Homo sapiens: one gene and its partners. The protein of the gene in region 1 interacts with the protein of each later gene in a pairwise test. Each region holds a gene or a part of one and is shown in the gene's direction. Other genes may lie near its edges.

Region 1 (3,272 bases):
ACTGCACTCCAGCCTGGGTGACAGAGTGAGACCTTGTGTTAAAAAAAAAAAAAAAAGATAAAATAGCTAAGATTCACCGAGGGCCTCCTGCATGCCTTGCTAAGAGTCTGACATGTGTTCACTCACTAATCTGACTGCCCTGGGGCTCCCGGGCCTGCCCGCGCCCTCCTGTGCTCCAGTTGTCCCTTTTGTGGGATACAGGGTTTATCTGTTTAACAGCACTGCTGTGTGACAGGCCCTATTTTACAGAGGAGAAAACTGAGGCACAGAGAGGTAAGGTCCCTTGGCTGAGGTTATGTGGTTGGTTAGTGCTGGAGCTGGGATTGAACCGGGGCGGTCTTCAAAAACAAACAAGAAACACATAAAAGAACCAAATAGGCCGGGCACGGTGGCTCACACCTGTAATCCCAGCACTTTGGGAGGCCAAGGTGGGGGGATCACCTGAGGTCAGGAGTTCGAGACTGACCTGGCCAACATGGCGAAACCCAGTCTCTACTAAAAATACCAAAATTAGCAGGGCGTGGTGGCGGGCACCTGTAATCCCAGCTACTCAGGAGGCTGAGGCAGGAGAATTGCTAGAACCGGGAGGCAGAGGTTGCAGTGGGCCAAGATCACCCCACTGCCCTCCAGCCCTCTAGGTGACAGAGGGAGACTCCATCTCAAAAATAAATAAATAAACAAAATAAAAGAACCAAATAACCAGGCGTGGTAGCTGATGCCTGTGATCCCAGCACTTTGGGAGGCTGAGGCAGGTGGGTCACTTGAACCCAGGAGTTCAAGACCAGCCTGGGCAGCATAGGGAGACCCTATCTCTACAAAAATTCCAAAATTTAGCCTGGCCTGGTAGGAGCTGAGGTGGGAAGATCATCTGAGCCCAGGAGGTCAAGGTTGCGGTGAGCCGAGATTGCACCACTGCACTCCAGCCTGGGTAACAGAGCGAGACCCTGTCTCAAGAAAAACAAAAACAAACAAAAAGCTCCCAAATAACATGGATGGTGACAGGCGCCATGAAGGGCTGACATGGGAGTGAGACATAGGCAGTGGCTGGCAGGGGGCAGGTGGGGATGGGGGTCGGGGGGAGGAGGTGCCTGCTGGGCCTAGTGTGTCATGTCCCCTCCACACACGCCACCAAACTCCCACTGCTCCGAGCCGCACTACATCCCTGCTCCCCAGCCTAGGGGCTGTGCTGGGGCCTGACCCTTTGTGAGCTCTCCTCAGTCCCAGTCAAGTGGACCTCCTCCCTCCCTCTCCACAGCCCTTGCCCTTGTCCAGGCCACCATCACCATCACCAACACCATCCTTGCCAGCCTGGAGTCCCCTCTCTTCATTCTGTGGGGCTAATGGGGGTGGCTGTGTGGGAAGCCTCTGGGGTCTACCGTTGGGGAGCTCTGCATGGCTGAGGTTGGGGGTTCTCTGGGAACCTGTGGCCAAGGGTCTCTGGTCACAGTGCCGAGGTGGGCCTGGCTTTTCCACAGTGGAGTCCATTGATGATTACGTGAACGTTCCGGAGAGCGGGGAGAGCGCAGAAGCGTCTCTGGGTGAGTGACCGGTGCTTGTCGGTGCCTGCCCCTGCACCCCGCTGCCCCACCATGCTCTCAGTGTGACCAGATCCCACCCTGGGGCTACCCACACCCTCTGCCCCCTCTGTCTGGGCGTCCCCTTGCTCTCTCGCCCTCCTGACCCCTTTGCGTGGCTGCCCCTCCTTCTGATCTGTCCCCACAGATGGCAGCCGGGAGTATGTGAATGTGTCCCAGGAACTGCATCCTGGAGCGGCTAAGACTGAGCCTGGTGTGTTCTGCGGGAGGGGCAGGAGCTGGGGTAGCTGCTTTGGGCTTGGGGGGATAGCTTGCAAGCTGGAGACCAACCTCCCCTCCCTTACAGCCGCCCTGAGTTCCCAGGAGGCAGAGGAAGTGGAGGAAGAGGGGGCTCCAGATTACGAGAATCTGCAGGAGCTGAACTGAGGGCCTGGTGAGAGGCCTGCCCTGTCCCCACCCTGCCCTGGGCCCACAGGCTCTACTCCTTCCCTCCAGGACCCCCTTGCCCAACCCTACCTCTGGCTTGTCCCTCTGTCTCTGGGTACCTGCTGAACCCCGTCAGCCTCCTGATCCGTATCCCTCCCTGCCCTGGTGTGTTTCAGTGGAGGCCGAGTCTGTCCTGGAACCAGGCTTGCCTGGGACGGCTGAGCTGGGCAGCTGGAAGTGGCTCTGGGGTCCTCACATGGCGTCCTGCCCTTGCTCCAGCCTGACAACAGCCTGAGAAATCCCCCCGTAACTTATTATCACTTTGGGGTTCGGCCTGTGTCCCCCGAACGCTCTGCACCTTCTGACGCAGCCTGAGAATGACCTGCCCTGGCCCCAGCCCTACTCTGTGTAATAGAATAAAGGCCTGCGTGTGTCTGTGTTGAGCGTGCGTCTGTGTGTGCCTGTGTGCGAGTCTGAGTCAGAGATTTGGAGATGTCTCTGTGTGTTTGTGTGTATCTGTGGGTCTCCATCCTCCATGGGGGCTCAGCCAGGTGCTGTGACACCCCCCTTCTGAATGAAGCCTTCTGACCTGGGCTGGCACTGCTGGGGGTGAGGACACATTGCCCCATGAGACAGTCCCAGAACACGGCAGCTGCTGGCTGTGACAATGGTTTCACCATCCTTAGACCAAGGGATGGGACCTGATGACCTGGGAGGACTCTCTTAGTTCTTACCTTTTGTGGTTCTCAATAAAACAGAACTTAAAAAATTGTCTAAGTAACTGAAAAAGTTAATATGCAGCACAGCACTTTTGAGACTTTGATGGGTAGGTGACTCACCGGCAGACTTTGCTGTGGGGTGGGTTCTGACTCAGTTCGCCTAGGACGTGGCCTGAGACTTTGCATTTCTGAGCCTCTCCTGTGTGATTCTGATGCTGCTGTTCTGTGAACCTCATCCTGAGGAGCAAGGGCGTGGTGAGCATCTATTGCCTTTACTTGTCCGGGATCCATTTCCCCTTATTTTGGGAATTTCACCTTGGCTTTCCTCTGCAATTCACTCCTTTCCCAATCTCATTCCATGTAGTTTTAGAGATTGTGTGTTTGTTTTTTCTTTTTCCTTTTTTTTTTTTTTCTTTTTTTGAGATGGGGTCTCCCTCTGTCGCCAGGCTGGAGTGCAGTGGCGTGATCTTGGCTCACTGCAACCTCCGCCTCCTGGGTTCAAACAATTCTCCTGCCTCAGCCTCCTGAGTAGCTGGGATTACAGGCCCCCACTACCACACCTGGCTAATTTTTGTATTTTTAGTAGAGATGG
Region 2 (4,979 bases), on another chromosome or scaffold:
TCCTTGGCCTCCCAAAGTGCTGAGATTACAGGCGTGAGCCACCGTACCCAGCTACGCCCCGTTAATTTTTGTATTCTTTAGTAGAGACGGGGTTTCACCATGTTGGTCGTGCTGGTCTTGAACTCTTGACATCGTGATCCGCCTGCCTCGGCCTCCCAAAGTGCTGGGATTACAGGTGTGAGCCACGGTGCCCGGTGCTACTGATTTTTATACATTGATTTTGTATCCTGAAATTTTGCTGAAGTCGTTTATTAGTTCCAGGGGCCTTTTGGTGGAGTATTTAGGGTTTCCAAGGTATAGAATCATATCGTCCATGAAGAGTTTTCACTTCTTCATTTCATATCTGGATGCCTTTTCTTTCTTTCTCTTGCCTGAGTGCTCTGACTAGGACTTCCAGTACTATGTTGAATGGGAGTGGTGAGCGTGAGCATCCTTGCCTTGTTCCAGTTCTCAAGGGGAATGCTTCCAGCTTTGGCCCATTCAGTATGATGTTGGCTGTGGGTTTGTCATAGATGGCTCTTACCATTTTGAGGCATGTTCCAATGGGAACTTTCTAATGTTTTTTAACATCCAAAAGAGCAAACACCTCTTCCATACTTTTTCAAAATGTATTATTTTACCCAGATAAAATTTAGAATTAAAAGATTTCCTCCATCCTTCCCTCCCGAAAAACCTCAGTTGCCGTTTTATCAATTCGCTTTAAAATTAAAAATTAATCTAGAAACACTGAATATTTTATTAATATTCAGTATTTCCTTATCAAAGGAGATAACATTTGGTGTCAAGTATTTTATTGTAACTGAGTTGTGATTTGTGTTCCTCTTCAAATAAATTATTCCTGTTTCTTATGGCTGTTTAGTATTTTGTATCCATTATGAGTTGGATAACCTTGTAATTCTGTTTGCTAATTTATTGCATTTGCTATGTTTTTAACATTCCTCCAGACATACATTTCTATTTCAATATTGTAGTTTCATCTTAGGGGTTTTAAATGACGTTGAAAATAATGATTATTGTGTCTGCCCTCTTCCAAAAGTCTTGCCTCATTTTAATTTTCCATCTTGTTGCCTAGGCCAGACCTTTCAGAACAATATTCAGCTGTGCTTAGGGAAGGCAGGTGTTTGGGTCCTGATTTGATTTCTGGGGAAGGCCTCCAAAGTGTCACTCTTAGCAATGGCATTCACTTTTGGTTTCATATAGAAATTCTCATCATCAAGAACACAGCTTACTATTCTAAAAGGGTTTGAAAAAAATCAGAATTGCTGTTTAATTTTACCAAATGTCTTTCCAGCCTCCATAGAGACTGCCATTTTATTTAATTACGCTATTGATATGGTAGAGTACTGATGATCAAAGATCATTTACAGTCTTGGGATAAATCATTTTGTTAGGTTTTCCTGGGTGCTCTCATATATAGTCTGCCGAGACTCTGCTGGTAAGAATTCTGGAAGGAAGTGATCATTTCTTGTGAGGGTGGGTGGGAGTTGATTAGATGGGGCAGAAGGGGACTTTCTGGGGTGTGGCAGTTTCTATGTCTTGATCAGGGGATAATTACACAGGCCTATAGTCAAAGTTGGTCAGAACACTTACAAAGTGAGCATTTACTGCATGTCACTTATGTCTCAATGAGCCACCAGCACACAGAGCCCAAGAGCTATGGAGGACCAGAGGTTTGTCTCCATCTCCATGGAGACCCAAGAGGGAAAGCGCTGCAGGTCTCTTGCTGGCTAGTGGTCAGGGTCAGTACTAGACTGCAGGACTCCTGACTCTGACCAGAGCATTCCCCACTGTGTGTTACAGGAACAGGCAGAAGCTGAAGGGTGTCAGAGGAGGAGGCTGCTGGTTCCAGTGAATGACGCTGACTCCGCTGACAGTAAGTGTTTTGTGCCTTGAGACGCAGCAGGAGGACAGGGAATAGGGACGGTGTCCTAACTGCTGTCCCTATAGCTGAGAGGGCTCTTCTGGAGGTTTCACTGCTGGAAGCAGGGGGCCCCATGTCGATCCTGTGCTGATCGTCCTTGGAGCATTGAGACCCTAAATCTCTTCTCTCTTCTCAGTCAGCACCTTGCTGGATGCCTCGGCAACACTGGAAGAAGGACATGCAAAGGAAACAATTCAGGACCAACTGGTGGGCTCCGAAAAGCTCTTTTATGAAGAAGATGAGGCAGGCTCTGCTACGTCCTGCCTGTGAAAGAATCTCTTCAGGAAACCAGAGCTTCCCTCATTTACCTTTTCTCCTACAAAGGGAAGCAGCCTGGAAGAAACAGTCCAGTACTTGACCCATGCCCCAACAAACTCTACTATCCAATATGGGGCAGCTTACCAATGGTCCTAGAACTTTGTTAACGCACTTGGAGTAATTTTTATGAAATACTGCGTGTGATAAGCAAACGGGAGAAATTTATATCAGATTCTTGGCTGCATAGTTATACGATTGTGTATTAAGGGTCGTTTTAGGCCACATGCGGTGGCTCATGCCTGTAATCCCAGCACTTTGATAGGCTGAGGCAGGTGGATTGCTTGAGCTCGGGAGTTTGAGACCAGCCTCATCAACACAGTGAAACTCCATCTCAATTTAAAAAGAAAAAAAGTGGTTTTAGGATGTCATTCTTTGCAGTTCTTCATCATGAGACAAGTCTTTTTTTCTGCTTCTTATATTGCAAGCTCCATCTCTACTGGTGTGTGCATTTAATGACATCTAACTACAGATGCCGCACAGCCACAATGCTTTGCCTTATAGTTTTTTAACTTTAGAACGGGATTATCTTGTTATTACCTGTATTTTCAGTTTCGGATATTTTTGACTTAATGATGAGATTATCAAGACGTAGCCCTATGCTAAGTCATGAGCATATGGACTTACGAGGGTTCGACTTAGAGTTTTGAGCTTTAAGATAGGATTATTGGGGCTTACCCCCACCTTAATTAGAGAAACATTTATATTGCTTACTACTGTAGGCTGTACATCTCTTTTCCGATTTTTGTATAATGATGTAAACATGGAAAAACTTTAGGAAATGCACTTATTAGGCTGTTTACATGGGTTGCCTGGATACAAATCAGCAGTCAAAAATGACTAAAAATATAACTAGTGACGGAGGGAGAAATCCTCCCTCTGTGGGAGGCACTTACTGCATTCCAGTTCTCCCTCCTGCGCCCTGAGACTGGACCAGGGTTTGATGGCTGGCAGCTTCTCAAGGGGCAGCTTGTCTTACTTGTTAATTTTAGAGGTATATAGCCATATTTATTTATAAATAAATATTTATTTATTTATTTATAAGTAGATGTTTACATATGCCCAGGATTTTGAAGAGCCTGGTATCTTTGGGAAGCCATGTGTCTGGTTTGTCGTGCTGGGACAGTCATGGGACTGCATCTTCCGACTTGTCCACAGCAGATGAGGACAGTGAGAATTAAGTTAGATCCGAGACTGCGAAGAGCTTCTCTTTCAAGCGCCATTACAGTTGAACGTTAGTGAATCTTGAGCCTCATTTGGGCTCAGGGCAGAGCAGGTGTTTATCTGCCCCGGCATCTGCCATGGCATCAAGAGGGAAGAGTGGACGGTGCTTGGGAATGGTGTGAAATGGTTGCCGACTCAGGCATGGATGGGCCCCTCTCGCTTCTGGTGGTCTGTGAACTGAGTCCCTGGGATGCCTTTTAGGGCAGAGATTCCTGAGCTGCGTTTTAGGGTACAGATTCCCTGTTTGAGGAGCTTGGCCCCTCTGTAAGCATCTGACTCATCTCAGAGATATCAATTCTTAAACACTGTGACAACAGGATCTAAAATGGCTGACACATTTGTCCTTGTGTCACGTTCCATTATTTTATTTAAAAACCTCAGTAATCGTTTTAGCTTCTTTCCAGCAAACTCTTCTCCACAGTAGCCCAGTCGTGGTAGGATAAATTACGGATATAGTCATTCTAGGGGTTTCAGTCTTTTCCATCTCAAGGCATTGTGTGTTTTGTTCCGGGACTGGTTTGGCTGGGACAAAGTTAGAACTGCCTGAAGTTCGCACATTCAGATTGTTGTGTCCATGGAGTTTTAGGAGGGGATGGCCTTTCCGGTCTTCGCACTTCCATCCTCTCCCACTTCCATCTGGCGTCCCACACCTTGTCCCCTGCACTTCTGGATGACACAGGGTGCTGCTGCCTCCTAGTCTTTGCCTTTGCTGGGCCTTCTGTGCAGGAGACTTGGTCTCAAAGCTCAGAGAGAGCCAGTCCGGTCCCAGCTCCTTTGTCCCTTCCTCAGAGGCCTTCCTTGAAGATGCATCTAGACTACCAGCCTTATCAGTGTTTAAGCTTATTCCTTTAACATAAGCTTCCTGACAACATGAAATTGTTGGGGTTTTTTGGCGTTGGTTGATTTGTTTAGGTTTTGCTTTATACCCGGGCCAAATAGCACATAACACCTGGTTATATATGAAATACTCATATGTTTATGACCAAAATAAATATGAAACCTCATATTAAAAAGGTGTGGTGTTCGTTTATTTCCATCCTCCTCTCCTGCTGTGACACAGCTCTGAGTGACAGGAGGCCAGGGCTTCGTTCCTGCTGGGCCTCCTTACTTGTCCCTTCTCTGCCTTCAGGCTTGGCCCGCCTGGCGGTGGGGGTGTGGGGGGAGTTTCCTGCCTATGACTCCCTGGATTTTAAAGGACCAGGTTCTTGGCTACTGGAATTCGCGCCTCCTCCCTGTTTCTCTCCTGTCTGCTCCTCCCTCTGGGGAGAGGGACAGCAGCCCTTCCCTGTATCCCCATCAGTGGACCCAGGTTGCTCAGCCCTGCAGGCACCTGTGAGAGCCATTTCCCACTCCCCTTGCGCTGGAGGACCTGCTCTCCCTCTGGCCCACAGCTCCCAGGAGGCCCAGGCGTGCTCCCATGCTGTCTGCCTTCCCTAGAGGGGAGGTGGGGCTGCGGCTGCTCCATGCTACCTCCTGCTTCCCGCCTGCACTGCCCATGGCCTCACTTGGAACCCTGGGC
Region 3 (7,657 bases), on another chromosome or scaffold:
CTTTGGGAGGCCGGGGCAGGTGGATCACTAGGTCAGGAGTTCAAGATCACCCTGGCCAACATGGTGAAACCCCATCTCTACTAAAGATACAAAAAATTAGCTGGGCATGGTGGTGCGCACCTGTAATCCCAGCTACTTGGGAGGCTGAGGCAGGAGAATTGCTTGTACCCAGGAGGCAGAGGTTGTAGTGAGCCGAGATTGCGCCATTGCACTCCAGCCTGGGCAACAGGGCTGGACTCCGTCTCAAAAAAAAAAAAGATAAAAAAAGAAAGTCCCACAGAGGCCCCGTGTCCAGGCTTTGCTTCTGGGAAAGCTGAGCCTTCCAGGAAAGGAATGCAAAGGGAGACACTATGAGAATAAGAAGGTGAAAATGCTGTTGAGGCTGGGCGCGGTGGCTCACGCCTGTGATCCCAGCACTTTGGGAGGCCAAGGCAGGAGGATTGCTTGAGGCCAAGGGTTTCAGACTACCCTCGCTAACATAGGGAGACCTGGTCTCTTAAAAAAAAAAAAAGCTATTTATTTTGACCAGAGAAATGCAAATCGAAACCACAATGAGATCATGCCGTTCACACCCACTAGGCTGGCAATAAAAACACAAACAAAGAAACTGGAAAATGACGAGTTGGACGTGGAGAAGTTGGAACGCTCCTGTATGGCTGCTGGGCAGGTAAAACAGTTCAGTCGCTTTGGAAGAGAGACTGGTGGCTCTTCAAAAAGTTAAGCATAGAGACAGGGCGTGGTGGCTCACACCTGTAATCCCAGCATTTCAGGAGGCCAGGGCCGGTGGATCACTTGAGCCCAGGAGTTCGAGACCAGCCTGGGCAACATGGTGAAACACCATCTCTACTAAAAATGCAAAAATTAGCAGCTGGGCGCAGTGGCTCACGCCTGTAATCTCAGCACTTTGGGAGGCCGAGGCAGGTGGATCACCTGAGGTCAGGAGTTTGAGACCAGCCTGGTCGACATGGCAAAACGCTGTCACTACTAAAAATACAAAAATTAGCTGGATGTGGTGGCAGGCACCTGTAATCGCAGCTACTTGGGAGGCTGGGGCAGGAGAATCACTTGAACCCGGGAGGCAGAGGTTGCAGAGAGCCGAGATTGTGCCACTGCACTCCAGTCTGGGTGACAAGAGCGAAACTCCATCTCAAAAAAAAAAAAAAATTAGCTGGGCATGGTGGCATATGCCTGTAATCCCAGCTCCTCAGGAGACTGAGGCAGGAGAATCGCTTGAGCCTGGGAGGCAGAGGTTGCAATGAGCAGAGATGGCCCCACTGCACTGGAGCCTGGGCCACAGAGTGAGACTCTGTCTCATAAATAGAAAATAAAAAATTAGCTGCGTGTGGTGTCAGGCACCTGTGGTCCCAGCTACTCAGGAGGCTGAGGTGGGATGACCACCTGAGCTGAAGAGGCTGAGGCTGTAGTGAGCCCTGATTGCGCCAACGCATGCCAGCCTGGGTGACGGAGATGAGAGCCTGTCTCAAAAAACAAACAAATGAAATCATATTTTGCAGCAACATGGATGGAGCTGGAGATCATCATCCTAAGTGAAATGACTCAGCAACCACCACCCCTGTCTTATTCCAGAACATTCTTGTCACCCTAAATGAAGCTCCATCCCCATCAGCCATCACTCCCCATCCCCTTCCCAGCCCCGGCACCCACAAATCCCCTTCCTGTCTCTGTGAATTGGCCTGTCCTGGACATTTCTTTTTTTTTTTTTTTTTTTTTTTGAGACGGAGTCTCGCTCTGTCGCCCGGGCTGGAGTGCAGTGGCGTGATCTCAGCTCACTGCAAGCTCCGCCTCCCGGGTTCACGCCATTCTCCTGCCTCAGCCTCCCAAGTAGCTGGGACTACAGGCGCCCGCCACCACGCCCGGCTGATTTTTTGTATTTTTAGTAGAGACGGGGTTTCACCGTGTTAGCCAGGATGGTCTCGATCTCCTGACCTCGTGATCCACCCACCTTGGCCTCCCAAAGTGCTGGGATTACAGGCATGAGCCACTGTACCCGGCCCTGTCCTGGACATTTCATAGAAATGGGATCACATACAGCATGGCCTTCTGTGTCTGGCACCTCTCACCGAGCGTGACATCCTTAAAGTGCATTCACGCCATGGCCGCAGTCAGAGCCTCGTTCCTGTTCACGGCTGTGTCGTACTTCACCGTGTGGAAGGGCCACGCTGTGTTGATCCGTGTATCTGAGGATGGAACGCTAGAGCTGCCTACACCATGTGGCTGCGGAGAATCGTGCTGCCCTGAACTTGGGTGTGCAAATATCTGAGTCCAAGCTTCGGATTCCTTTTCGTAGATACCTAGGAGTAGAGTTTCTGCATCTTATGGTCATTCTATTTTAGCTTTTTGAGGAACTGCCAAGCTGTAATATACTTTTAGGAGGGGCCAAGCACTGTGGCTCACGCCTGTAATCCCAACACTTCAGGAGGCCAGAGTGGGCAGATCGCCTGAGGTCAGGAGTTTGAGACCAGCCTGATTAACATGGTGAAACCCCATCTCTGCTAAAAATATGAAAATTAGCCAGGCGCAGTGGTGCATGCCTGTAATCCTAGGTCCTCGGGAGGCTGAGGCAGGAGAATCGCTTGAACCCAGGAGGCAGAGGTTGCAGTGAGCCGAGATCGCGCCATTGCACTCCAGCCTGGGTGACAGAGAGAGACTCCATCTCAACAACAACAAAAAAACTTTTAGGAAGAAAAAATAAATCTAGGTTACAAACAAGATGTTCAGCCCTTCGCTAATTATGCCAGCTTTATAAAAATAAATATGGAACTAATAATAAAATCACAAGTTACAAACAGCGGAAAGAACATGTCAAACTATTAAACAGTGTCTGTTTGGGGGCGGGAAGATGACAGGTGCTTTACAGTTTTTGCTTTCAGCTTCTCTTTGTTTCCTGTTTGTCTCTGCCTTGTGTCATACAGAAAAAAATGAGAGCCATTTCTTTTTTTTTTTCTTTTTGAGACAGAGTCTCGCTCTGTCGCCCAGGCTGGAGTGCAGTGGTGCCATCTCGGCTCACTGCAAACTCTGCCTCCCGGGTTCACGCCATTCTCCTGCCTCAGCCTCCCGAGTAGCTGGGACTACAGGCGCCCGCCACGACACTCAGCTAATTTTTTGTATTTTTAGTAGAGACGGGGTTTCACCGTGTTAGCCAGGAGGGTCTCAATCTCCTGACCTTGTGATCCACCTGCCTTGGCCTCCCAAAGTGCTGGGATTACAGGCGTGAGCCACCGCGCCCGGCCGAGAGCCGTTTCTAAAGCGGAGGGAGTGGGGACCAGGGAACCCCAGCCCTTGCTTTGCTGAAGGCGGGCTGGCCTTCTGGGTCTCTTGGTAGTTCCTGGGGAGGCCCTATTCACTCAGAATTATTATTATTATTTGAGACAGAGTCTCACTCTGTCGCCCAGGCTGGAGTGCAATGATGTGATCTCGGCTCACTGCAACCTCCACCTCCCGGGTTCAAGCAATTCTCCTGCCTCAGCCTCCCCAGTAGCTGGGATTACAGGCATCCACTATCACGCCTCACTAATTTTTGTATTTTTAATAGAGACAAGATTTCACCATGTTGGCCAGGCTGGTGTCAAACTCCCGACCTCAGGCGATCCGCCCGCCTCAGCCTCCCACAGTGCTGGGATTACAGGCGTGAGCCACCGCGCCCGGCCATTCACTCAGGATTTTTAACACACAGGCCTCACCACCAAAATCCACTTCCCCTCTTCCCTCAGGACTCCCAGAGTCACCATGCTTTGCAGGTAGGGCTCAAACATCTGCCTGCAGGCCTTAGAATGTGCCTTTGGGGGCTGAGAGACCCCGGGTCCTCTCCAGAGCAGAGGCGTCAGGTTTCTCTGCATGACGGTGTGGGAGCAGGCAGTTCCGAGTGTATGAGCCTGCCAGAGCCACAGAAACAAATGACCCCAAATACAGTGGCTTTAAACAGCAGGAATGAATGCATTGCAGGGGCTCCCGCCTGGGATCCCAGCACTTTGGGTGGCCAAGGCGAGCGGATCACATGGATTACTTGCGGTCAGGAGTTCGAGAGCAGCCTGGCCAACATAGGGAAACCCTGTCTCTACTGAAAAAAAAATACAAAAATTAGTCCGGGTGCAGTGGCTCACGCCTGTAATTCCAGCAATTTGGGAGGCCAAGGTGGGCGGATTCCGAGGTCAGGAGACCGAGACCATCCTGGCTAACACGGTGAAACCCCATCTCTACTAAAAATACAAAAAAAATTAGCCGGGCGCGGTGGCGGGCGCCTGTAGTCCCAGCTACTCGGGAGGCTGAGGCACGGGAATGGCGTGAACCCGGGAGGCGGAGCTTGCAGTGAGTGGAGATCGCGCCACCGCACTCCAGCCTGGGAGACAGAGCGAGACTCCGTCTCAAAAAAAATTGAAAACTTACCGGGTGTGATGGTGCGCGCCTGTAGTCCCAGCTGCAGGCGCTACGTCTCCCTGGGTGGCAGTGGCGAGTGCTGAGTAGGAGCAATGCCCTGCCCTGCTGCAATGGCAGGGAAGGGTGGGGGACTCCCCGGCTGTGACCTCACTCCAGCGGGCATGCTGATTGGCCCACCCGCGGTCTCTGGCCACCTGTTGCCGTCCATCACGGGGCCACCCTCCCCATCCTCCGTCCTGTCCACAAGGCTCAGCAAAGCGGCTGGCGGGTAAGCGAGGCTCGGGGGTAAGGAAGTGAGGCTGGGGGAATCCCGGGCAGAGGTGTGGGCTCCCGGGGTGTGAAGGGGTGTTGCAGAGGACTGTAAGGGTCCCCAATTCCTGGAGCTGCCCCCATGCACACCCAGGGGCCACACACCAGCCTCCCATGCTTCTTGGGCCCCTCCCCCACTGCCACGCAATAGGCCCCTTCCAGGTCTTGGAGCCCCAGGGCTGGGTGGTTTTTCAGCCTAGATACAGGGACACCCTAATCCCAGCAGCCAGAGGCCATGGGGACCCTGAAGAGTACAGCTTTGGGTCTGACTTGAAGCTCCTTGCGACCTCCAGCCAATGGCACTGTCTCTAGCCTCGGTTTCCTCATCTGTCCTATGGGAACAGAGTTAGTGGGACAAGGCAGGGTACTCTGTGTCAGGATCAGAAGACCCCCAACCACAACCGGGACCCTCCTCCCCTGCCCCGGCCTGTCACGACCAGAGCCAGGATGGTTCTGCTGCTGGGGCCTGAGCCTGTAGACTCACAGGGTCACGCAGCAGGATGTGGGTGCCCAGAATGGCAAGTCAGGGTGGCCCAGAGGGAGACCCCATGAGAGCAGAGGCCTGGGAGGGGCTGGGGCACCTGTTAGCCTGTCCCGCTGGCCTCAGGCACCAGATAAAAATAGTCCCTGGTCTCAGAGAACATGAGCTGACTCTGGGGCCAAGAGTTTCGGTTTGGGGTGCGTCTGGGACTCATTGCTGTGTTGTCCTGCAGGGGCTCCCGCCCTCTCTGGGCCAGAGCAGCCTGGGCTACTGTACTGATGGATACTGGACCCCAGTGAGGCTGGGCGGTAGGGAGGGGTCCCAGGGCAGGCATGCGGGGTCAGAGAGATGCCTGGAGTGGGCGCCGGGCCATGCCTGGCATGAGTATGAATTTGCCGAGTGAGGAGGGGTGGGAGGACGGGGCCTGTTAGTTGGTGTCCGCAGAACCTCCAGGTCAGGCCCAGGCCTGTGGCAGAGACTCAGTAAATGCAAGACCTTGTTCCCCACCCCTCCCAGCCTGGCCTGGGACCTGCTGCTGCTCCAGCCATGTCCATGACAACCAGAGCCTGGGAGGAGCTGGATGGCGGCCTGGGCAGCTGCCAGGCCCTGGAGGACCACTCTGCGCTGGCCGAGACCCAGGAGGACAGGGCTTCAGGTACCCTTGTGGCGCTGGCGGGAGGAAGCCCTTCCCTGATGGTCCCCTTGAGCCAGGAGGCCCATCTTCAGAGACTAGAGCTTCTTAGCCTCCCACACTGGACTGGCTTATAGTGTGCTCCCCATGTTCAACCCCTGGCCCTCATTTCTGCCTCAGGGGTCTGTAAGGAGCCCCCAAGGAAGACAGGTGCTGGGCCACACAGATCTAGGTTCGAATCCCACGTTGCCACTGAAATGCTGGGTGTCTTTGGGCAAAGCTGTCTCCAAGCCTGTCTGCTTTCTTTATATTTTTATATATTTTTATTATTATTTTTTGAGACAGAGCCTCATTCTGTCTTCCATGCTGGAGTACAGTGACATGATCATAAGTCACTGCAGCCTTGACCTCCCAGGCTCAAGTGATCCTCCTGCCTCAGCCTCCCAAGTAGCTGGGGCCACAGGTGCAGGCCACCATGCCTCGCTAATTTTTTTTTTTTTTTTTTTTTAGAGATGGGGTCTCACTATGTTGCCCAGGCTGGTCTCAAACTCCTGGGCTCAGGTGATCCTCCCACCTCAGTCTCCCCAAAATGCTGGATTCCAGGTGTGAACCACTGTGCTGGCCTCCACCTACTTTCTTATCTATAAGATGGGGTTAGTCACCCGCACGTCACCCAGCAGGGCCAGGGGAGAGGGTGGGATTGGCCTGGGGGTCCCCACAACCTTGACTCTGCCTGTGTTCCCACAGCGACACCCAGGCTGGCCGACTCCGGCAGCGTGCCCCACGTGAGTAGCTGGGACCCTCAGCCTTTAACCCAGGACGCCTGGGGAGTTGGGGACAAGCCGACCAAGGGAGGCAGGTGTCTAAAGCCCACGGGAAGGGTTTGGCACTGGAAGGAAACATGTGGAATGTCTCGTGATAACCACAGGACTCTCAGGTGGCTGAAGGCCCCAGTGTGGACACCAGGCCCAAGAAGATGGAAAAAGAGCCTGCCGCCAGGGGGACCCCAGGAACGGGGAAGGAGAGGCTGAAAGCCGGAGCGAGTGGGTTTGCAGGAGGCATGGGTGAGGTGTGGGGTGGGAACGGACTGGTGTGAGGCTCAGGTGCCGGAGCTGGGTCCTTGGATCTTGGAGGGTGGTGTCCTGGTTGAGTGGCGTCGAAGTGTGGCAGGCAGCGAGTCAACGGGCAGGGAGCCTCTACTAATGCGTAATAATACCAGCTATGCCACTCAGCTCCGGGAAGTTACCTTCCAGAAACTCTAGGCATCCCCGTGCAGCTGCGGGGCACCCGGGGCTGGGTTCACCTGCGCCCGGGGCCGCACAGGCAGGCAGAGAGAGCCGGGTTCAGGGCACAGGCCTGTCTCTTGTCCCCTGCGCCCGGGGAAGGGGGCGGCACAGAGCCAGTGACCACAGCGCAGCGCGCACTTGCCCCCGCAGGCCCTCGGAGCGTCCCCGCGCGCAAGAAGGCGCAGACCGCGCCGCCCCTGCAGCCGCCGCCGCCGCCCCCGGCCCTGAGCGAGGAGCTGCCCTGGGGAGACCTGTCGCTCAACAAGTGCCTGGTGCTCGCCTCGCTGGTGGCGCTGCTGGGCTCGGCTTTCCAGCTGTGCCGCGGTGAGCGCAGGCTCCCCAGAGGTGGGGCGAGGCTGGGGTCCACCTGTGCGCCTATTCCTCCAAGGAAAGGCGCTGTGCCGCCAGGGTGGGGTCTGGGAGCCTCCTCTCCAGGGCTGGGTCTTGCACGCCCCCAAAGTTGGTTTGTGCATCTCCCCTTAAGTGACGGGCCTTGCGCGCCCCTCTCACCCGGTGTGGACCTTTTGCGGGGCCCATTCCCCTCGCCGCGAGTAG
Region 4 (7,315 bases), on another chromosome or scaffold:
AATTACAAAGTAGTGCTCGGAACAAACAAAATTAAGTGAAGTGTGTTTTAAACATTTAGACAATTATCGTAAGACAGTTTGTTATCCTTTCACACAGGGAACAGTAGACGGGTGGAGAAACAGCAACAAAGATACCATGTGAAGGTATTGCTTTATACACCTTGGCTTGGATCTGGGCCATGCAGGTGCCAGCTCTGGATTTCCTTCCCAGCAGACAACTGCCAGTACAAGGAGACTCACAGACATTATTGAACAACCCAATTGCATCATACTTTAAAAAAGATTCAAATTATATATAAAAAGTGATGAATTCAATACCACTTCCCCCTTTCTGTTGATTACAAATTGACCACACAAGGGAATATTTAGGGTCTTGTGGCAGTAGATGCATAACTACCTATTTCTCTTGAAGTCCTGGTCTCAAGTGATCCTCCCACCTCGACCTCCCAAAGTGCTGGGATTACAGGCCTGAGCCACTGCACCTGGCCCATCCATTTGTCAAAATCCACAGAACAATACACTGCAGAGAGTTAACTTTATGCAAATTAATGTGGGATCTTAGGATAGAATGGCCAGCACGACAAATGAACTTAATTATATTACAAAGGTATGGCATAACCTCACCAAAGTGAGTGGGGAAAAAATAAATTGAGTAAATAAATAAAAGTTTGATTGATTACTCAATCAAAAAAGAATTGATTTGAGTAAATAAGAAAGAAATTGAATTGATTTGGAAAACTGTTTTGACTGGCTACTTTCAGGATAAAAACAAAAAGAACCGTACATAAACACTGTAGTTGGAAAACTTGCTTCCACAGAGTTAGAAATTCTGAAACTACATGTATTGTTAACACACACACACACACACACACACACACACACACACACACACACAAGTAGAGAGAGAGAGAGCACAGCACCCAGATCCATATCATTGCTGGGAGAATTAGTGGTGCTGCCCATAGACTCTACTCAGAAAGGACAACTGGAAGCTTGTGCGTGGTCTCTCGTGGACTCTGCTGCCTCTTACCTTTGCTATTTTCATCTGTATCCTTTCACTATAATAAACTGTAACTATGAGTAAAATAGCTTTTTGGGGTTCTTCTAGTGAATCATTAAACCAGAGGATAGTCTTGGGGATTAAAGACTCTCAGTTATTAGATACCCTATTTTAGCATTAAGTTTAACCCAATCTTAAAATCCAGCTTTAAGACCAGATGATTAATTTATTTAAAGCGAAAAATCTCAACAAAAATATTAAATAGAAATCAGCAAGGCTAGGCACGGTGGCTCACGCCTATAATTCCAGTACTTTGGGAGGCTGAGGTAGGAAGATTGCTTGAGCCCAGGAGTTGGAGAACAGGCTGGGCAACACAGTGAGACACTGTCTCTACCAAAAATTAAAAAGGTAGCCAGGCATGGTTTTATGCACCTGTGGTCCCAGCTACCCAGGAGGCTGAGGTGGGAGGATCACTTGAGCCCAGGAGGTCAAGGCTGCAGTGAGCTGTGATCGCGTCACTGAACTCCAGCCTAGGCGACAGAGCAAGACTCTGTATCAAAAAAAAAAAAAAAAAAAAGATCAGCAAATTGTTTGAATTTCTCCTCTTAGGAAAAAGAACTGTATTAGCATATGTTACTCTGATATAGCTGATATGGCAATATCAACCATCAAAGATATAATGGTATACTTATCTGGTATAATTTATAAGTTTGCCTCAGTAGAATCACAGCCTATTCTGTAGTTAAAAATATACACTGCTAGTATTATAGCAAACTTTAGTGGCTTTTGTGATAAAGAAAATAAACTTCAAAAAACTCCATTATTCCCTCTAGGATAACTTTATTGTAAGTCTATTTAAGAAAACAGTCCAGGCTGGGCATGGTGGCTCATGCCTGTAATCCCAGCACTTTGGGATGTTGAGGCAGGCGGATCACTTGAGGTCAGGAGTTGGAGACCAGCCCAGCCAACATGGTGAAACCCTGTCTCTACTAAAAATACAAAAATTGGCTGGGTGTGGTGGCAGGTGCCTGTAGTCCCAGCTACTCGGGAGGCTGAGGCACCACAATCGTTTGAACCGGAGAGGCAGAGGTTGCAGTGAGCTGAGATCGCGCCACTGTACTCCAGACTGGGCAACAGAGCAAGACTGTCTCAAAAGAAAACAAAAAAACAGTTTACAAACTTTTCTGTTTCATGGATACAGGAATCAGAAACTGATACCCAAGCTCATAAGTGGCATAAACATAATACTCAAACAGCATAACATAATACATATATTCCCTCTGTGTTTTGAAAACTATTTGTTAAAACAATCATTCAGAAAAGTAGACAAATCAGGCTGGGTGTAGTCGCTCACGCCTGTAATCCCAGCACTATGGGAGGTCGAGGCGGGTGGATCACCTGAGATCAGGAATTCGAGAACAGCCTGGCCAACATGGTGAACTTGTCTCTACTAAACATACAGAAGATAGCCAGGTCGTGGCATGCACCTGTAATCCCAGCTACTCGAGAGTCTGAGGCAGGAGAATTGCTTGAACCCAGGAGGCACAGGTTGCAGTGAGCCGAGATCGAGCCACTGATCTAGGCTGGGCGACAAAAGCGAAATTTCGTCTCAAAAAAAAAAAAAAAAAAAGAAAAAAGACCAGGCCGGCTCGGTGAGCCGAGGGGGGCGGATCACTTGAAGTCAGTAGTTCAAGACCAGCCCAGCCAACATGGTGAAACCCCGTCTCTACTAAAAATACAAAAATTAGCCGGGCATGGTGACGCGCACCTGTAATCCCAGCTACTCGGCAGGCTCAGGCAGGAGAGTCGCTTGAATGCGGGAGGTAGAGGTTGCAGTGAACCTAGATCACGCCACTGATCTAGGCTGGGTGACTGTAGCCTGGGTGACAGAGCAAGACTCTGTCTCAAATAAATAAATAAATAAATAAAAGTAAAGACTTCTGCAAAGTGTGTGTGTGTGTGTTTGGGGGTAGTGGGTGGGAAGCGAAAAAGAGGCTTTTTTTTTTTTTTTTTTTGGAGACGAAGTCTCACTCTTGTCACCCAGGGTGGAGTGCAGTGCACCATCTCGGCTCACTGCAACCTCCGCCTCCTGGGTTCAAGCGATTCTCTTCCCTCAGCCTCCCAAGTAGCTGGGATTACAGGCATCCGCCACCATGCCCGGCTAACTTCTGTATTTTTAGTAGAGACGGGGTTTCACCATGTTGGCCAGGCTGGTCTGGAACTCTTGACCTCAGGCGATCCGCCCACCTCTGCCTGCCAAAGTCCTGGGATTACAGGCGTGAGCCACCACGCCCAACCTGAAAAAATTCTTAAATGAAATGACTTTAATTCAATTAAAATTACTAATCCTGTTAATAGAAATAATTTTATTCTTTTTTCTATTGATGTTTGTAAAAAGATTTTTTTTTTTTTTTTGTGAGACAGAGCCTCACTCTGTCGCCCAGGATGGAGTGCAGTGACGCTATCTCGGCTCACTGCAACCTCCGGCTCCCAGGTTCAAGCTATTCTCCTGCCTCAGCCTCCCGAGTAGCTTGGATTACAGGCGTGCGCCACCAAGCCCGGCTAATTTTTTTGGTGTTTTTTGTTTTTGTTTTTGTTTTTTAGTAGAGACAGGGTTTCACCGCGTTGGCCAGGCTGGTCTCTAACTCCTGACCTCAGGTGAACCAGCCGCCTCGGCCTCCCAAAGTGCTGGGATTATAGGTGTGGGCCACCGCTCCAGGCCTGTAGGCTTTTTTATATTTCAGTATTAGGTGCATATCTTTCAAAATAAATAAACATAAGCCAGGCTTTTCCAACTGCGTCCTACACATTCTACAAGATATTAATCATGTGTCAAGAATAAAAAGTGTTGTGTTCAAGTACGTTTGGGAAACATTGCTAGTATATTATTTTCTTCTTAGAGAACCATAGAAAAACTTGAGAGGTTGGCGGGTTGGCGCAAACCAAGACCAAAACTGAACTGCAATCACTACCAAACCCCCACGAGTTTGCCCCTCCCCGCTTGCTAGCCTCAGTCCAGATTCTCCGGAAAAAGAAATCAGTCGTACGGGCTCTCGAAATGACGTACTTCCCGCGCGCCGCGAAGTCCTGATGCCAAGGGGCCAGTCGCGAGGTAAAGGAGGGGTCTCTGAAGTGGGCGTGGCGTCGCTGGAGGCTACTCAGGCGCGGGACTCGTTCTCGAGGCGGGAGCTGAGGTGCGGGGCGGGGCCTCCTGCCCGGCGCCGGCCTGTGGGGAGGCGGGGCGGGGCACAGTCTCTTAACCGTGCAGCCCGCCCCTGACGCCGCCGGTAACTGCGAGAGTCGGGGTCGGTGCGGTTTGATAAGTGGTCGGTTCCTGGAGCTGCGGTCTTCTGCTAGCCTGATCCGCAGCTTCAGCCTCCGCCGCCTCCTCAGCCCTCGGCGCCGCCGCTGGCGCCGCCGCCTGACCCGCAGGCCGCCGCGGGCCGCAGAGCCCATGAGGGCGCGGGCACCGCCGCCGCCTCCGCGGCGTCGCCGTCGTCCCGGAGCGCCCCGGGCTGGCGCGGGCATGGCCGCGGCATGAGCGTGGAGCCGCCGCCGGAGCTGGAGGAGAAGGCGGCGTCGGAGCCCGAGGCGGGAGCCATGCCGGAGAAGCGCGCGGGCGCGCAGGCCGCGGGGAGCACCTGGGTGAGCGCGGGCGCGGGGCCCGGCTGCCTGAATCCCGGGGAGGCTGGGTGGGGTCGCACCCAGGGCCCGCGAGCCCGCCGCTCCGGGCAGGGGCTTCGGCTCTTGGAAAGTCGGTCCTTTTCTGGGGGGGGAGGCGAATTCATCACGAATACAGGTTTTTCCTAGTGACTGCTCATCGCAGACAAAACTTTACAGGATTTGGTTATTGTTTCAAAAGGCGCTAGACATGGGACAGTGAATATAAGTAGTAATTTGGTTATTTCGGAGTTCTCCGTCCCTGTAACAGTTGATAACAGTTTTCCTGGCGCAGTTTCTCTCCAAGTCTACATGGAAAACAGGTAGGGAGCATTTGAATCAGACCGTCGACGGGGAAGTTGGCGGCAGATGCCGGGCAGCGCCTTGCTGCTCCTTCCGTGTTCTCCCGGCGTCGGAGGGGCGGTCCTAGCGATGGGGAGCAGAGTTTCCAGGGGCGTTGCTGGGGACCAGCCGAGGAGCAAGTTAGGCTGGCCTCTTTCTCCAGTTTTACTTTTGCTTGAGGTCGAGATGGCTTCTGACAATGATACAGAAGCAATTGAGCCCTGACTTAACTGGCCTGGTTTCGGCAGAACAGGCCTTGTCTGTGTCAGTGGTTTCATATGGTGCAATATTAAGCCTAGAGGGTTTGTCGTTTCTTCAAGGCCTAAGTTTAAAAAGGATTTTTTTTTTTTGGTCTTAGGACCTGAAATATAGAGAATGTTACAGTGAATAGAAACTGACACAATGGGAAAGTTTTTCCAAAGAAAAGTAGAAATTTTATGGAAATTAAATACATGTTTTTGGCTTTAGATTTTTAGCTTACATATCTGATTTTGTGTTTAGTTGAAGAATGCTAAGTGTTTACATGAACGTATTTGGGGATGTAAATCCCTATTAGTAGGTTGGGAGGGCAGCTGAAGCAGAAGGAGCAGTAGGTAGAACGGATCCGGCAGAGCTGGTTTTTAGTCCTGGTTTTGCCTGAACAGTGCGCACTCTGGACAGGGTATTGAAACAGCCTTGCCCCTCAGTGCCTCCTCTGTAAAATGAGGACTTAGTTGAAGTCCCCTCCCAGCCCAAGTGACTCCCTATTTTGAAAAGCATTTCAAAGTTAAGATCTCTGTAATATGAGAAGCTTATTTTGTCGAGGGAGAGAAATTCTGTATAATTGCTTGCTCTCATTTTGATTCGCGTTAAGTAGACTTGTCCTCTTCCTGCTTGCTACACAAAACTAAAGCACCAGTTCCTCCTCCTGTCTCATGAATTGATGGACAGTAATTACTAACCAGTGGCCCAGCTAGTAACCTGCGAGGTAGCTTCCTTCATCCCTTCCCATACTTAAAACAATCAGAAAGTCTAGCTAAGTTTATTAGATACAGATTTTAGGTTTTTATCCTCTCCTATGCATTCTTATGCTCAGAATTTCCTCAGCATTTTTGACCCAGACTTTGACTATCTCTTTCAAGACCCTTGCTCACCCCAGCGTCAGTCCACCTTGCACGTGGCTGAGTAGTGTGTTCTAGCATGTAAAGATGATCATTACTGCTGTCCTTAATTTTTTTCATTGGCTCCTTATGGCTTACAGAATAAAAAAATAAATTGGCAGGTTGAAGCATTATTAGTATAGTGATTAGACGAGCATGCTTGAAATCCCAGTTTCCACAGTTCGATAAGTTAACGTAACTCCTGATTAATAATGGCATTTACCTCAGAGGGTTGTGAGGGTTGCTGCAACTTGGCATCTAGTAAGCCCCTTAATACATACTAATGTTGTTAGTATTTTGTAATATTCTTTGCATGTATGATTGAATGATCACAATCTATAGGTGATCTGACCGTGATAAAAGTAGTTGTCTCCCATTTCCTAGTGTTGACAGGAACTAGACCCCAACCTAGAAATTAAAGTTGCTAAATTTGTGTGCTTAAGAGCAGAAACTTGCGAGGGATGTTTACTCAAAGAAACCTAGACTCAGTTTATTCCCCAGTTCTTTCTCCGTTGGATCCTGATGGTAACCTAATTTTGGGCACAGGTAGATTCCTGCCTGGTCTTTCCTCCTCTCTGAGAACGCATGGAGTTGATGTTAATTGTGATGAATACTGAGTTTTCTTGGTGTTTGCTGTAGATAGTGAGAAGGCTAGCATGAGCAGGTAGCAGTGTTTTTCTGAGTGTGTGGACGTTGGGAGAACAGTGAATGCTTTTAATCATATATGTTTGTGTCATATGCTAGTACCCCTGAATTATGTGTTTTTCCTGTTTGCAGTTTCTAATGTCACCTCCGGGTGCTGTGTCCTATAGCCCCTATATGAATTGATTTCATTTTAATGTGTTGGAATTTCCTTACAGCTTGGTTTCAGTGACACTCATGATTTCAGGTTCTTAGATGCTACTAGTAATCACAGGGAAGATTGTCCAGCTGATAACTTTTTTCTTTTTTGTTTTCTGTGTTTTTTTTTTTGAGATAGGGTCTTGCTGTCATCCAGGCTGCAATGGCCAGTCATGGCTCACTGCAGCCTTAAATTCTTGGGCTCAAGCAGTCCTCTCACCTCAGCCTCCTGAGTAGCTGGGACAACAGATATGTGCCACCATGCCTGGCTTTTTTTTTTTTTTTTTTTTAATTTATTTTTTGTAGAGATGAAGTCTTCCTGTTTCCCAAGCTG

The links.
Region 2: the proteins of LAT (region 1) and TNFRSF10D interact in binary tests that used the Homo sapiens proteins (3 or more experiments, as listed by UniProt).
Region 3: the proteins of LAT (region 1) and JSRP1 interact in binary tests that used the Homo sapiens proteins (3 or more experiments, as listed by UniProt).
Region 4: the proteins of LAT (region 1) and SLC71A2 interact in binary tests that used the Homo sapiens proteins (3 or more experiments, as listed by UniProt).

The regions. Positions count from the first base shown.
Region 1 is NC_000016.10:28,988,052-28,991,323, forward strand, and holds the end of LAT (linker for activation of T-cells family member 1), read left to right. Parts: intron 1-1,475; coding exon 1,476-1,538; intron 1,539-1,722; coding exon 1,723-1,788; intron 1,789-1,881; coding exon 1,882-1,961; 3' UTR 1,962-1,968; intron 1,969-2,137; 3' UTR 2,138-2,733; downstream 2,734-3,272. UniProt on the Homo sapiens protein: Required for TCR (T-cell antigen receptor)- and pre-TCR-mediated signaling, both in mature T-cells and during their development.
Region 2 is NC_000008.11:23,135,082-23,140,060, reverse strand, and holds the end of TNFRSF10D (tumor necrosis factor receptor superfamily member 10D precursor), read left to right. Parts: intron 1-1,800; coding exon 1,801-1,873; intron 1,874-2,057; coding exon 2,058-2,191; 3' UTR 2,192-4,473; downstream 4,474-4,979. UniProt on the Homo sapiens protein: Receptor for the cytotoxic ligand TRAIL. Contains a truncated death domain and hence is not capable of inducing apoptosis but protects against TRAIL-mediated apoptosis. Reports are contradictory with regards to its ability to induce the NF-kappa-B pathway.
Region 3 is NC_000019.10:2,253,389-2,261,045, reverse strand, and holds the start of JSRP1 (junctional sarcoplasmic reticulum protein 1), read left to right. Parts: upstream 1-4,628; 5' UTR 4,629-4,663; intron 4,664-5,701; 5' UTR 5,702-5,731; coding exon 5,732-5,840; intron 5,841-6,563; coding exon 6,564-6,601; intron 6,602-6,744; coding exon 6,745-6,859; intron 6,860-7,252; coding exon 7,253-7,426; intron 7,427-7,657. UniProt on the Homo sapiens protein: Involved in skeletal muscle excitation/contraction coupling (EC), probably acting as a regulator of the voltage-sensitive calcium channel CACNA1S.
Region 4 is NC_000009.12:94,370,283-94,377,597, forward strand, and holds the start of SLC71A2 (hippocampus abundant transcript-like protein 1), read left to right. Parts: upstream 1-4,286; 5' UTR 4,287-4,537; coding exon 4,538-4,645; intron 4,646-7,315.